2 separate regions of the Homo sapiens genome follow, and region 1 is linked to region 2. A link means that fine-mapping ties the variant in region 2 to the expression of a gene that starts in the linked region. Tissue or cell type: whole blood. Region 2 holds a variant in brackets; the other region holds the start of a gene. All regions are shown on one strand. Distances are between the middles of the regions.

Region 1 (4,181 bases), 37 kb after region 2:
GACACTCACACATCCCCGCCTCATTCCCCACACATACACAACACCCACTTCCAGGCTCAGGTCTCTCTGAAAGTCCATCTGCTGAGAAGCCCACTGCCAGGGAGAAGGGCCTTCTGAGAATTGAGGATGGAGAAGAGGAGTTTCCAGGTAACTTTTCCTGAGCCCTCATCCTGGGAGCACTCTTCTGCCTCAGATCTCTGCCCTCACTTCTCTCCAGCCACAATTTTGGAAACACAGTTATGCCCCAGAAGTTGTCCTGGGCTTGGGGTCTAAGTTTATCCTTTTTGCTCTTAGGCTTGTATTTGAGGCTGGAGGAGAGATGGGGGTTCTCAGAGGGCACAGAGATGGGGGAAGGGGGCTTCTTGCCAGGGCCAAGAGAGTGTTTGTGTGGGAGTTACACAGTGGCCTAGTGAGTGAAAGAGGCCCCCCATACCTGATTCATGCCTCAGGGCAGATGGAGGCCTACTGTCCCTGCTATCTCCTCTCAGACATAAACACATCCTGCTACCTACTTCTCAGGCCTGTGGGAGGCACATGGGGACCTAAGCCAGGGAGGCCTGTGCGCATACAGGCCCTAGAGCTGAATGCCCAGACTATGCACATGCATCCACCCACTGTGCTCTCCTCCACTGGTGCGGCACCCACAGGATAAAACCTGAGGACACAGTGTGTGTGTGTCTGTGTGTACACACAAATACACACGCCAGTGTCAGAGGCTTGTCTAGGTGAAAGTGAATGTAGGCTGGGGGTCCCTAGAAATGTCACAACTAACCCTACAGGTGTCCGCTGTCATCTGCAAGGTTGTGCCTGCCACAGGAGACCTGTTTGTACAAATGGTAGCCTGAACAGTGCTCACTGCACACCAAGAGGCTGCATGCCCTGAATTCACACCTTCATTCCTGGTCCTATCTCCCAATAGAATGGACACTGGGCCTTACAATGCACATGCTAAACACCACGGATCTCCATAGGCCCCAGACCCACGTCTAGGAGTTTGCCTAGAGACACAATGTGAACATTGGCGTGTATGCATCGGACAGCCGTTGACATCCAAAAATGGAAAGGTCAGTGTAGCCACTTCTTTCTCACATCCAAAAATCACTTGGGATATAACAGGTGAATGCAGACCCTTTAAATAGTGGATGTACACTCAGATATTTCCGAATTACATAAATAACACTCATAGTAGACACACATTTTGGATACCCAAAAGAATATACACAAGTACTAACTTATAAACACACACGAATACCCCACGAGTATAAAGATACACACACACACACACACACACACACACAGGCAAACAACTTTTGGACACAAACTCATATATTTTTACATCTTTTAAAAATACATATACTGTAATGAACACACTGAGTCCCTTATATAAACACACAGGCCCTAACTTGCAGACCCCCGGAAGGACGCCAGCGTGAACATTCAGAAACAGAGAAAAACACAGACAAACTCACAGATATTTGGACTGATGCAGAAGTGTGTGAACAGATAGGTGAAAAAACATAACAAACACGCCGCAGTTAGACAGTCTCTACGAAAATGCGGCGCGCCCCCTCCTCCTCCAGGGTCACCCTGCGTGGGGACCAAGGCCTGGCCGTGTCCCGGAGTTTGCACATCTGGAGCCCGTATCGCGGTCCTACCTGTCCTGCTGGTCCGAGGAGTCGGATAATTTTTCTCTAAATCCATTTTGATTTTTCAGGACTTGATGGAATGGACAGGGAAAAGTTTCCACTTTTTTGTGCCTTTTTTTTTCTTTTTTTTTTTTTTTTTTTTTTTTTTTTGGTGCCAGGGGCCGCTCACAGGTCGGAATAATTCAAGCCTTCCGCTCCCCCGCCGAGCTGGGGTAGCTGATCACTGAGCTGAAACTAAACGTTTTAGGTGGAAAAAAAGCGTCCGAAGGCACCGTGAAATGATTAAGGAACTAAAGAGCTTCTCGCCATGTGAGATCATGTCCTGTTCTCGCCAACATCACAAGATGTCCCCAGACACGCCGCGCCCCCAGCGCGCCGCCCCACACTGCCGGCCCGGAGCGAGGAAAGGGTAGGCGCTGCGCGGCCGGGCCTGCTCAGCGCGCCAGACGTGGCGGACCCGGCCCGGCCGGAGTAGAGCGGGAAGCCGGGAGAGCAGCAGTGCTGCTGCCGCGCCGCCCCAGACTTTTATAGGGGTTGGGGGGAGGGAAGGAAGGCTTCAGCCTGCGCCGGGCGCTAGCCAGCGCACCTACGGGAAGGGGCAGACCGAAGCGGAGCCCGGGAGCCCGGGTCTTCCAGCCGCACCTTCTATTAAGACATGCGCTTGGGGGTCGCGGCCCTCTGCGCTGTGCGCGGGGCCTGTGACATCTCCATGTGCAAACCCCGCTGCTTAGACGAGCGCAGGCCGGGTTTTTGTTTTTGAAGAAATTAACTGCTCGGCCAAGCAGGTGCTTTTGAAAGGGGTTGCAAAGGCTGGCAGTGTTGCCAGGCACCGAGGCGACGTTCCGGTTTACTCCGATTCACCCCTAGGGCGGCGCCCGACCCCAGGGTTCCCAGCCATCCAACCCCCACCCCAATTTGTTGGGGTCCTGACTATTGCTGGGCCCCTGACCCTAGGGCAGCGCCAGATCCCTAAAGCCCCCAGGTCCCATCCAGTCTTCTAGTCCCAGAACCCCTCCCCACATCAAGTTCCATTCTGGCCCAGAGCATGGAGGTTAAGCTGTGAAATACTGGAGATGAAATCCGGGCTTCCGCTTTGGAGCACCCGGGCAGAGCAGAACATCTCAGTAGTTTCTGGAGATTGGCGGGAGTTCCAGACACCTTACCCCGGCCCATAAGTGGAATCGCATTGCCCTCGAGCCCTGAGACGTTGTGGAGTCCCAGAGCCCCAGGACTTGATTCCAGAGAGGAAATCAGATCCACAGAGACCGAGCAGAGGTGTGGCATGTCCAGCCCTCTCTCTTCGGGCCAGACTCAAGCCTCCCCTCCCTGTTCCCCTCCCCAGCCTTGAGTTAGTTCAGCTGCTGGGCCTAGCCACTGAAAGCCTGTGGGGCCCTGCAGCGGGGTGGTCGCAGGGGAAAGGTTCTCCAGGGCGGGGGAGCGCTCCGTAGGAGGACTCCTGGCCCGCCGGACAATGGCAGTTTTGGAGAGTGAATCGTCCTCAGCAAGAGTGTTGTTTGTTTTTTGGAGGGGGTGGTCACGAGGCTGGGTCGCAACCTAGGGGGAAGAGCCTAGAGCTCGAGGAAAGGGGGGCCCCCGGCGGCAACTGGACATCACATATCCACTGAGCAGATTTCGCCACAATCGGAAATGTGGCTGTGGATTCCCGGGCGGCCCCCCCACCAAGTGGTCTGCGCAGTTCCCCAGCGCCGCCTCCTCCCTGCAGCCTGCGGGCCCGTGTCCCTACCCCGAGATTTGATTTTTGGCCATCTCCGAGTGCTCGACTCTTTCCCTCCGCAGCCCAGCCCCAGCCCAGGCTTCCCGCCCTCCCGCCTCGCCCGCGCCGGGAGGCAGCGCCTGGGAGGAGCGGCCTGTCCGCGCCTGGAGATCAAAAGCCCTCCCGGAATTGACATTTCACCCCGGGCTGGGGGCGGGGGGTGTTGGTGTTTTGTTGTTGTTGTTGTTTCCATTTAGAGGGCTTGTTTTGTTTTTGTTTGTTTTCTGTGAGTTTTCATTTTTCCATGGGATATTCTTTTGTTTCGGGTGTTTTGCGTGTTGTTTTTTCGTGGGATTGATTTTAGCGGGTTTTGCTCTGTAAGTCCTGGTCTTTGGGGTGAGTTTTGATTTTGTGTAATTTTGTACTTTGTCCTTGTAGGCTGTCTTTTTGTGTGTCGTTTGTAAGGCTTTTCCTTCTCCGCGGTGTTTAGATGTGTTTTGATTTGGTGTGAGTGGGTGTCGTCTGTGTGTGTGTTGCCTTAGGGAATTTCGTGTTGTGTGTGTTTTGTTTCCTTCGATTTGAATTTTATTTTTTTGAACTGTACGTTTTGGTGGGGGATCGGGTTATATTTTCATGTGTTGTCTTTAGTTTTTGTGTTTGTGAGATGCGCTGGTGAGAGTTTGCGTGTGTATTTTGGCTTTTGTGGGGCTTTGGGATTAGGGAGGGGACATCAGCCGCTACTCCGTTCCTGCCCGCACCCATGAAGGGCAGAGGATTAGGCCAAGCATCACGAATCGTAGGTTCGCCGTGCTCCGCCGCTT
Region 2 (4,181 bases):
GTCTCGAGGTCCAGGCTGGTGGCCCCAACAACCCCTCAGACGCCCAGCCCTCCCAGGCCCAGGGTGCTACCCTCTGCCCCCACCCTGGAGGCCTCCACCCCCCTGTGCTCCCTGTGCCTCTCTTCAGGGAAAACTGGGGCCTGACCCTTTTCTTCTGCCATGAAGCAGGCTGGGAGACTCAGCTTCCTAAAGGCAAAGGAGGAGGAAAGTGAGTGGCCCTTCATTCTGCAGCCGACACCTGGGGGCACTGTTGTTCAGCCTGGATGCCCCGGGCTCCCGGCTGCAGGCAATCGGCTTCTTCAGTACTATGGAATCGCTCCGTGGCTCCACAGCTCCAAACAGGAAGGTGGTGGTGGGCGAACCAGCCAGTTCCAGCTGCCAACAGGACCGTGGCTAAAGCCTGCTGCCCTCTGCCATGACGGGCCTCACGTCCTCAAACATAGGCCTCTCCGTGGCCATCTACTCAGCATTGACTACAGCCAGGCCCTGGGGCCACGCCCTTGGCAGCTGTCACTTCACTTCATTTTATTCTCACTGTAACCCACAAGGCTTGCGTCAACTCTATTCGCCAGATAACAAAATGGAGGTGCAGAGAGATTAAGTAACTCGCTACAAGAAGTCCTCAAACCATTTCATCCCTGCCCATGAGCCTGTGCCTTTGACTCAACACCTTATTTGGGGCTCTCCAGGGATCAGAGATCTGTGAACTCTCAATCCCACAGGGGCTGCCTATTACTCCTGACTCAGGAATCCTGAGCTTTTCCACATACCCATCCCTTCTGGGAGCTCTGAGAGGGCTCTCCCCACTTCCTGCTTCTGTTTTCTGCCCTCATCCCGGGAGCAGCAGACAGCATCTATGCATCCAGGGAAGGAAAAGGGTCCTAGGAGAGAAAAGACCAGGACCTGCCCATGTCAGAGGGGCCCAGGGCCCCAGCACGGTCTGTGAGCTTCTGAAGCCCCTTCCCTCTGGCCATAGCTCCCGTGGAGGTCTGCTGGGCAGGGCTGAGGGGGCGTCCAGCCTGAAAGAGACAGGGGAAGAGGGGATTTGGGGAGAGAGAGAGATAGCAAGAGAGAAAGGAAATTGAATGAGTGAATGAGTGTGAGAGAAAGAGAAGAAGGAGAGGGAGAGAGAGAGTGTGTGTGTGAGAGAGAGTATGTACGAAAAAGAAAGCTAGTGAGAGCTAGACCGGGAGACAGAAACAGACACAGAGGAAGGTTCAATAAACAGGAAATAAAGCCAAATAACACAGAATGAGATGCACCCCCAAAGACATGGGGAGAGACACAAAAACAGACAGGAGACAGGCATCCCCAAAAAGGAAGTCATAATGGGAGCACCTGGCTAAATGCCCCCCAACAAACCTCCCCATGAGAGTCTCATCAGACTTGGCATCTTCTGGAAAGGACAGGCCACCTCTGAACCCTGGCTGCCCTTCCTGTGCCCTCCTTAGAAGGTAGTCCAGAGCCCAGAAGGCTGGAAACTCACTTGCAACGTACCCCTACTGCCCAAAAAGAAACCTCTGGCCCCCACAGTCCACACTGGCTGGACAGGTCAGCTTTCTAAACTGGTGAAAGGGATTCGCACTCCGCTGACCTCAGTGTGTTCAGGGCCTTTCAAACTCAGGGCCCTGTGAGTTATTGTGAGGGGGACAGGGAGGGGACCTAAGTGGGGAGAGCGGCGGAAGGAGGTCTCACTAGAGATCAAAAGCCCAGGAAGGAACCCAGGGTCTGAGGCTGCCCTTTCACCCATGGCCGCTATTCACAGCCCTGCCTGCTTTGCCAAGTCTCTCCCTGCCACCACCTCCTCTGGGCCTTCCGGAGAGGGAGGTGCTGACTCAGCCTCCATTCCCCTCACCCAGCAGGATTCCTGAGCCATGCCACAGCTTCCTCGACGAAAGCTCTCAGTTCAAACCAACCAAGAGACAAAGCGACATCTCATAACTGGGTGGCACCCCAGCCTGACCCTCAGAGCCATCCCGCAGGCCTCCCAGGCATCCGTGTGAACCGGGGCTGTGCCGAGAGGCTGCGCTGGGGATAGAAATGATTTGTGGCCCCTGCCCTGTCAAGTCCACATGAGTGGCAGCCTCAGGGTCAGGCAGCAGAAGGGAAAGACAAGTGGGTAGATGCACTTGCAGACACAGTACTGGCACAGAAGCATTGGCCACCCAGGCTAGAACAGGCCTGCCTCAAAAGTCACAGAGTCCGAACCAGAATGTCATCCTTGACTCTTCTGCTCCTCATTTGTCCAGCGCCTGCTCACACCTCTGATGATGGAGAGCTCACTACCTTTCTAAGATAAAGCTTCCATTCTTGGCCCAGCCTGGCTGCTTCTGAAAGCCATATGTTGCATTCAGCCATAATCTGCCTCCTGCAGCTTCCTTTAACCAGCCCCAGCTCTTCCTCCAGAGGCCACAGAGATCTTACCTGCTGCTGAAGAACAGTTCATCTGAGACTTGGACATAGTGGCCATATACCCGAGTCTGGTCTTGGAGGCAGGCATCCTAGGAAGAACTCTAGAATCTCTATACTGAAAGGGCCCTT[C/T]GCCAATCCACTGGCCTAACAATATTCTAGTTAGTTTGTTTGTCTTTGCTCCAGAACTCTACTCGGAGCTTTCTATGGAAGCCCAAAATACCAAACAAAAGCACCCTTGACTGAGGATAGTAGAGGTCCCTCCACTCACCCTCGTTACTAATTGTGAACCCTCTAAAGGAATGTGACTGATCCACTCTACCAAGGAGCACTTACTGAGCACCTACTATGTGCCAAGCACTTGTATTAGAGCTGTGTTGTCCAATACAGCAGCCGCTAGTCCTATGTAGCTACTGTGCACTTGAAATGTGGCCAGTACAATCGAGGAGCTAATTTTTTTATTTGATTTGATTTTAATTTTAATTTTAAAATAGAAGCAGTGTAAAATATTTGTCCCACTAAACACAGCTTTATTGTTTTGGTAGGACTACATCTAACTTTAACTGTCAAACGTTTCGCATCCAAATTGAGATGTACTACATGTGTAAAATACACACCAGATTTCAAAAACTTGGCAGCAAAAATAAGAGAAAATATAGCATCAAATTTTTTATATGCTGACATGTTGAAATGATGATATTTGGGGTATACTGGATTAAATAAAATATATTATTAAAATTAATTCCACTTGTTTCTTTTTACTCTTTTTAATGTAGTTACTAGATCATTTAAAATTACACGTGGCTTGCATTCTGCTTCTGTTGGATAGTGCAGGGCTAGTCACTGTCATGTTATCTTTTTACCTGAAACACTCAGCAGAGTGAATGTTTCTTGAGCATCTGAGACACATAGCTCAAAACTATCTCCCTAAATGCTTCTAGACTAAATGTTCGAAAGCCTCCGTCAAAGTCTAAGCCACCCACATCTCTCTACCTCTCTCCCTTTCCAAATCCTGCCGTGCTGGTCCTCTCCCTGCACATGCTCACCAGAGTCCCAGACTTGGCACAATCTCTCTTGCCTTTGATTGGAATGCCCTCTCCTCCCTTTACCCAGCTCTCAAATGCCACCTCCTATGAGGAGCCCCCAAGATCCTTTTGGTCAAAACTGGCCCTCCCTGCCTTACTCTTTCCCCCAGTGTCACCTCACCCACTGCCCTCCTCATCAGAGGAATTTCAGCTTGCCAGTCTTGCTCGCCACCTTACCCTCTGTGGTTGGATCCTATCACCCGTTCACCTCTGCAAGATCTGGGCAGGAGGGTGGCCCCAGGAAATGCCCTCAGAGCAAAACTCAAGTCTAAGCTGGGGATGACTGTGAACTAGGCAGCAGAGTAAGCAACTCCACCTTGCAAAGCCTCAGTCACCTCATCCGAAAAATGGGCAAGGACCCTCAGCTGTCTTCCTCTTAGCTCTCCATTGCCTCTCTTACCCCATGATTCTTCTCTCAGGCTGCTGATGGTACCGCACTGGAGGCCAGAACCCTCACAAATCCATGGTTTGCAGCTGCCATGGGCCAGCCGGCCAGTGTGCCTGAAATATCCCTGTTTCCCCAGTGGCTGCTTCTTACTTTCTCTGCTCTCCTCCAACCTCTGGCCTTCAGGTCTCACTTCTCTCTCCGCATCCAACCTGCTAATCATGCCCTTCTGATTGAAACTCTTCCCCATACTGGCCCCAGGCTCTGCCCAGCCCCAGACTGCTCCGCCTCCAAAGCGCATC

What was found. PIP is the estimated chance that this variant, and not a neighbour inherited with it, causes the effect.
Region 1: PAX5 starts here. The variant in region 2 is fine-mapped to the expression of PAX5 in whole blood (TOPMed, PIP above 0.99).

What each region holds. Positions count from the first base shown.
Region 1 is chr9:37,032,331-37,036,511 of GRCh38, forward strand. PAX5 (paired box 5) reads right to left here and starts at 1,938. Exons shown (of 10, transcript NM_016734.3): 1 at 1,656-1,938. The coding sequence starts at 1,701. RefSeq lists silencers at 1,704-1,824, 2,091-2,270, 3,351-3,510, a promoter at 2,084-2,522 and enhancers at 2,601-2,650, 4,044-4,093.
Region 2 is chr9:36,995,773-36,999,953 of GRCh38, forward strand. The region is part of intron 5 of PAX5 (paired box 5); the gene reads right to left. Among named protein-coding and RNA genes, the nearest start is that of PAX5, 36 kb to the right of the region's middle. RefSeq lists enhancers at 319-478, 380-880, 1,382-1,897, 1,898-2,412, 4,070-4,119. The variant C/T (reference allele first, on the strand shown) is at 2,542.